2 linked regions of the Homo sapiens genome follow. The protein of the gene in region 1 purifies or fractionates together with the protein of each later gene. This does not show direct contact. Each region holds a gene or a part of one and is shown on either strand. Other genes may lie near its edges.

What was found.
Region 2: the proteins of TMEM213 (region 1) and DCUN1D5 purify together in Homo sapiens (affinity purification with mass spectrometry; one large-scale study listed by BioGRID and IntAct). This does not show direct contact.

What each region holds. Positions count from the first base shown.
Region 1 is NC_000007.14:138,804,127-138,807,259, forward strand, and holds the end of TMEM213 (transmembrane protein 213 precursor), read left to right. Parts: 3' UTR 1-2,633; downstream 2,634-3,133.
Region 2 is NC_000011.10:103,085,661-103,089,160, forward strand, and holds part of DCUN1D5 (DCN1-like protein 5), read right to left. Parts: intron 1-3,500. UniProt on the Homo sapiens protein: Contributes to the neddylation of all cullins by transferring NEDD8 from N-terminally acetylated NEDD8-conjugating E2s enzyme to different cullin C-terminal domain-RBX complexes which is necessary for the activation of cullin-RING E3 ubiquitin ligases (CRLs).

The DNA of each region.
Region 1 (3,133 bases):
TATTGCATTCTGTCCTCACTGTCTTGAGGATCTTCCTCCCCGGCTCATCACTCCCCATGGGCAGCTGCCAGGGTAGGCGCTGTCACCTTCTGTTGACAACAGTCAGTAGCTCCTAAGGACTAAAACTGTTCAGCCCAGCATTCAGCTCTTTGGAGGAGTCCATCTGTCCCCCAGCACATCCAGGAGTAAGGATTCCGACTGGTCCACTCCTCATCCTGGTGTCTTCAGCTTCTCTGCTGCCATGTTCTTTGCTGGGATGGCTGCTTCCCAACTCCACCTCCAGAATCAAGGATATTCCTCCAAGCCCAGCTCGAATGCTTGATCTGCCTGGAGCCTTCCTGGTCATCCTTGGGTGACCTGGAGCTGGTGCTGTTAGAGCACTTCTGCTCTGCCCTGATGTGCAGTTGTTGTGAATGGGCCACTCCATAGTTTATCCTTCCTCACACCCCTGGGGCATAGTACCCTATTCAAGTTTGTCCAATGAGTGCATGGGTGAATTAATGAATGAATGAACAAATGAGTCTTTGCCCTAGACAACTTAAGGTCCTCACTCTGCATTAGGAGCCTCCATTTTTCTCCAGATGGTTGAAATAACCAGCCTCTGAAGGAGCCAATGGTTTGGTCACTGCTCTCTCAGCAAATTACAGTCACTGTCACTTAGCATGGAGAGTGGACGTTGCACATCACTGTGAAACCTTGCAGAGGAGGAGAGGGCAGGTTCATCAGAAGAAAGAAAGGACAAAATGACTCCTTATGAAGCATTTTGTGCCTTCTGTGAGAAAACATGTATTTAGATCAGATAAACTCTAGTCAAAATACAAAAAGGAAAAATGAAAGACCTCTGAAATAGGAACAATCTCTTGAAGAGGCAAATGACTCAAAACTGCTCAGTGGCTCTTTCAGAAAATCTAAGTAAAGTTCCCTGACAACAGAAACTGAAGAGATTGCCTGGTTCATCTTGTAGTCTTCCAAAACAGCAGATAATTTCTGAATCTCAGATGTTGAATCAGTGCAACGGGATGGATTTCTTGTTCCTAAGTGTTAAATGATCACATACATAAAAGAGTCTGAGCCTGAGCAACATAATGAGACCCTGTCTCTACAAAAAAAAAAAAAAGATTAGCCAGGCGTGGTGGTGCACACTGATAGTCCCAGCTACTCAGGAGGCTGAGGGAGGCGGATCACTTGAGCTAGAGAGTTCAAAGCTGCAGTGAGCCATGTTTGTGCCACTGCACTCCAGCCTGGGCAACAAAGTGAGACCCTGTCTGGAAAAAAAAAAAAAAAAAGCGTCTGCATAATTCCTGGTGCATTTTGTGGATATACAATATGAGTATGTGTTCCATGTTTTCAGAAATTCAAAGGAAGCGTTTCCACAATATGTGACGGTTTATTTCCCAAGAGATGAAAAGATTCATTAAGGTGCATGCTTTGATTTAACATCTGCAAACATTTAAAAAATATAACAGTGTGTGACGTAGCAGTGAGAGTACTATCTTTTTTTAAAAAGGGAAATTAAGATTTATTTCTGGCCAATGTGAACAGAAATAAGTCACTTTATCTCACTGAGCACCAATTTTACACGTGGAAAATAGAAGAATTGGACCAAATCAGCAGTTTCAAGCTGAGTTGCAAAAGTTCATGGAACCATTTCAGTCGCTTCATGGAATCGGGGTAGGCATGAGGCCCGTTGTTCTTTCAACCTGAGCCGCATGGCTCTTGTGTCTTTAAACCTTGTGGTAGGATTTTTTTTTTTTTCTGCTTTAATAAGTGAAGGGTCAGGGCACCAGTTGGTGTCTGAGATGCCCTCCAGTCTGGGGAACCCCGTAGATGCTTAGACTACTTTGAACTGAAGTATGTGCAGTCTGCCATCTCACATTAAAATGTAGGCATTTTGTCAATTGCTTTTCTTTCATCTGCACAAGAGGAAGGAGAGAACGAATCAATACAACCACTCTTTTCCTTGAGACTGCAAAGAAAATGGTTCTATAGTTTGATGGTTCTACTTCCCAGATGCTACCTCTCAGATTTATTCTCAACAGAAAATTTTTTGATTACAGCAGACCAGATCTTTATCTGTCAATAAGTTAAAAAAGATAATCTGGGCTGGATGTGGTGGCTCACTCCTGTAATTCCAGCACTTCGGGAGGCCAAGACAGGAGGATTGCTTGAGCCCAGGAATTTGAGACCAGCCTGGGCAACATGGCGAAACCCCACCTCTACAAAAAAATACAAAAAAATTATTTGGGACTGGTGGCGCATGCCTGTGGTCCCAGCTACTCGGGAGGCTGAGGTGGGAAGATCATTTGAGCCCAGGAGGTTGAGGCTGCAGTGAGCTATGATCTTGCCACTGCACTCCAGCCTGGGTGACAGAGTGAGACCTTGCCTCAAAAAGAAAAAAATAAAGAAAAGAAAATCTGAAAGGGAAAGCAGGCATCAACTTCCAGGGATCTAATAACTTCCTAACTTAAAGCAACAGAACTTACCTAACTTTTGGACTTTTCATTTTAAAACTTTGCCTCTAGCAGTGGACACTGTCCTCAACACAGCTACAGTTTATGTAACACAGAGTCCATATTATATGGGGCATGTCTGTATCAAAATGTCATATGTAGAAATAAAGTATTAAATATTAAGGTGTGGCATAATTATCTGACTTTAAAAATCATCATTTAGTGGCCGGGCATGGTGGCTCACGCCTGTAATCCCAGCACTTTGGGAGGCCAAGGCGGGCAGATCACCTGAGGTCAGGAGTTTGAGACCAGCGTGGCCAACACAGTGAAACCTTGTCTCTACTAAAAATACAAAAAATTAGCCGGGTGTGATGGTGGGTGCCTGTAATCCCAGCTACTTGGGGGACTGGGGCAGAAGAATTGCTTGAACCTGGGAGGCAGAGGTTGCAGTGAGCCGAGATCGGGCCACTGCACTCCAGCCTGGGTGACAGAACGACACTCTGTCTCAAACAAATAAGTTAATTAAATTAAATAAAAATCATCATTTAAAAATCTATTCCTGGCCAGGTGCAGTGGCTAATGCCTGTAATCCCAGCACTTCGGGTGTCTGAGGTGGGTGGATCACCTGAGGTCGGGAGTTCGAGACCAGCCTGACCAACATGGAGAAACACTGTCTCTACTAA
Region 2 (3,500 bases), on another chromosome or scaffold:
GCTTTCCCCGGACTGCAAAATGTTAATCCTTCCAATACCATTGCTTCCAATCTTTCTAATAAAACTACTCTCTGGGTAAAACCTCTGGAGCTAAATTTAATTAACTCTTTTGGACAACTAGGTTTCCACTCAATTGAAGAAGCTATAGAAATGATTTTGTTCATACTATGAGTTCACTCTACTCCACCAGCTAGGTACTATATTAGGACTATGCAATTCCAACCTTATTTTTTGACTCTATGAGACTTTAAAACTGCCCTTTCACTTTCCATGTTTTCAATTACCATAGGCCAGTATATTACTGAATCATTAATTTAAATATCACTCAAGAATGAGGTCTTGTGAAAGAACAAAACCAACAGCCTTATCACACATAATACCATAGTAACAAGTTTAGTGATATTTTCAAAACTAAAAGAAAAACACCATCAATTTCCTGATTTCTTTATAACCATAAAGGAATGTTCCTAGCTATATCTGCAAGGCCTAATACCATGCCAGCCATAACAGATGCTTAGGGGGAAAAAAAAAAAATTCTCAGTGACACAGCACCTTCAACATGAGCTACGTAAGAGTCATTAATTTTGGAACACTGTAAAAAACACACAACCAGTAAATCTGATGCTGTAATGCTATTACTGTTTTAATAATAATAACATTTGAGTTCTGACTATATACCAGGTATTGTGCTAAGGGCTTTACATGTATTATTCTCAGTAGGCAAAATTATTGGCTTCATTTTAATACGGACATACCCATTTCAAGACAGAACAGTTACTGTTTATTTGGCAAACAAATGGTTCCTCCCTAATCAGGTCTCTGCACAAAGTGGTCTCCACAGAGAGGCCTTCCCTAATCACTCTATCTGAAAGTCCATCTAACCCTTCTTTCTTCTCTATTCCTGAACCTCACCATATTTATTATCCTTATAACTCCCCACAATCTGTACTTATCTTGCCTACATACCTGTTTACTGACTGTCTTCCTCACCAGAAGGCAAGTCCCCCAAAGGCAGGGATCTTGTCTGACTTGCTCAGCACTATATATCCAGCACTCAGCACAGTGCCTGACTCAAAACAAGTGCTCAATATTTATTGAATGGATGACAGAAATTAACCAAGAGTACCAATATTTTCTTTGCAAAAGTGAAAATTAGCTTAAATAAAAAATAAACATAAAATAATATCTATTATAATAAAATGTTTATAACTATATATAAACATTATAAAATTTAAATAAAAAATACATAAAAGCATAGTAGTTAAAAGCATGGACTTTAGAATCAGAAGGACCTGGGTTTGAATCCTGGCTCTTGTCACTATATGATCTTGGGCAAATTAATTAATCTAAGTCTCAGTTTTCTCATCTATAAAATGAGGGTATGGCCAAGCACAGCAGCTCATGCCTGTAATCCCACCACTCTGGGAAGCTGAGGCAATTAGATCACTTGAGCCCAGGAGTTGGAGACCAGTTTGGGCAACATCGTGAAACCCCATTTCTTTTTTTCTTTTTCTTTTTTTTTTTTTTTGAGGCAGAGTCTCACTCTGTCACCCAGGCTGGAGTGCAGTGGTGTTATCTCGGCTCACTGTGAGCTCCGCCTCCTGGGTTCACGCCATTCTCCTGCCCCAGCCTCCCAAGTAGCTGGGACTACAGGCGCACACCACCACGCCCGGCTAATTGTTTGTGTTTTTGGTAGAGAGAGTGTTTCACCATGTTAACCAGGATGGTCTCGATCTCCTGACCTCGTGATCTGCCTACCTTGGCCTCCCAAAGTGCTGAGATTACAGACGTGAGCCACCACACCCGGCTGAAACCCCATTTCTACAAAAAATTTAAAAAATTAGCCAGGCGTGGTGGCACATGCCTATATTCCCACCTACTAGAAAGGCTGAGGTGGGAGGATGGCCTGAGCCCAGGAGCTCAAGGCTGCAGTGAGCCATGATCACAGCACTGCGCTCCAGCGTGGGCGACACAGTGAGACCCTGTCTCAAAAAATAAAGTCGTAGTGGGAGGTGGTGATAATACTACCTACTTAATAGAACAGTCACAAGAAAAAATAATATACCTGGGACAATTCCTGGAATAATGCAATTATTATGTTGGCTATTAAAAATGCTAATATAGTAAACAAATGTTTAATTAGAATCTTACACTACCTAGGAAAGTTCCTAGTTGAGGCAAATATTTTCTATTTCTATTGTATCTAGTAACCTTTATAAGTGAAATAAGATGGGTGACCTTTTGATTATATATCATTCATACCAGTAAAACTGGCATTTGGGATAATGGGTCAACATTTTAAATGGAGGTCAGTAAGAAATGAATTCCCTTCATTTAAATTGGGTTAGTGGTTGTCTTGGGATGCCAGTAATAGCATTTATTTCTGGTCTAGAAAGAATCTGTTCTGTTACTAAACAATTTTAAAATTGTACTTTGGGATCACTCAGCTGATTCCAACAGTAAAGTTACTGCCCCCCTTTCAAAATAGTCTCACATTCCATACAATTAGCCTAAACTTATACCTCAAGTTCAAAGTATACTACTTTAGACCTTAATGTGGATGAGCACTAAATATAAGGCAATAGCTACATATACACTTCCATTTTAAACAAACATTTTGAGAATGATAGTGATTAAAAGAAGGAGAAAAAAAAGTGAAGCAGGTTAAAAAAAAGGAAAAGGAAAAGAAAAAAGCTTTAAAATCAATAACTCCAAAAAAACAAAACTATTCTAAGGGGAAAAAAATTCCATATATATTTATGAGATAGTATAAGTGTTCTTTTGCATATATTTGCTTAACTCTTCAGCCCCATCTCTGGCTGGCTTTGACTTTCGCCTCTAAAACACAACCCCATCCTGGGCCTAGGGCTCTTCATCCACCAGTTACAAGATTTAGCTGAGGTTAAGTTAGCTCCTCTAGAAAACTCCCATGACACTTTAAAAGCTGGGTTATATATCCCTCCTATGAACTCTCACAGTGTATCTTCTGAATATAGTATTTATCACACTGTATTAATATCAGTCTATTTATTTTCTTACTATTGCATCTCTAGTAGAAGTGGATGGCTAAATGATAATTGTTAAAAAGTAAATGTGTTGTACAATTATAACTGAGGGGTTTAAATCTTTTACTATGTCTCCCCAAAAGTTTCAGAAAATGTTAGTTCAGAAAAATTTCAAAAAGAGAATATTGAATAGAAATGTTTTATTATGTACTTTGTGTTTTCCACAATATCAAATACAAAAATGTTTTATTGTGTACCTTTTATTTTCCAGAATACTACTTTAGCCAATAGATGTAAATAAATGAATCTTTGTTTACACGTTTTATTAATAGTAAATGAGTTCTTCCCTCCCAGTAAATATATACCGAATATATATTTAAAGAAATATCAGCCTAAATTGGCAACAAATTTTTAGTCTACCCACAATCTTCAGTCCTGACCCTCATCCCAGTACACAGCACTAACACATAGCAGGCCTGTAACAGATAATTTGTT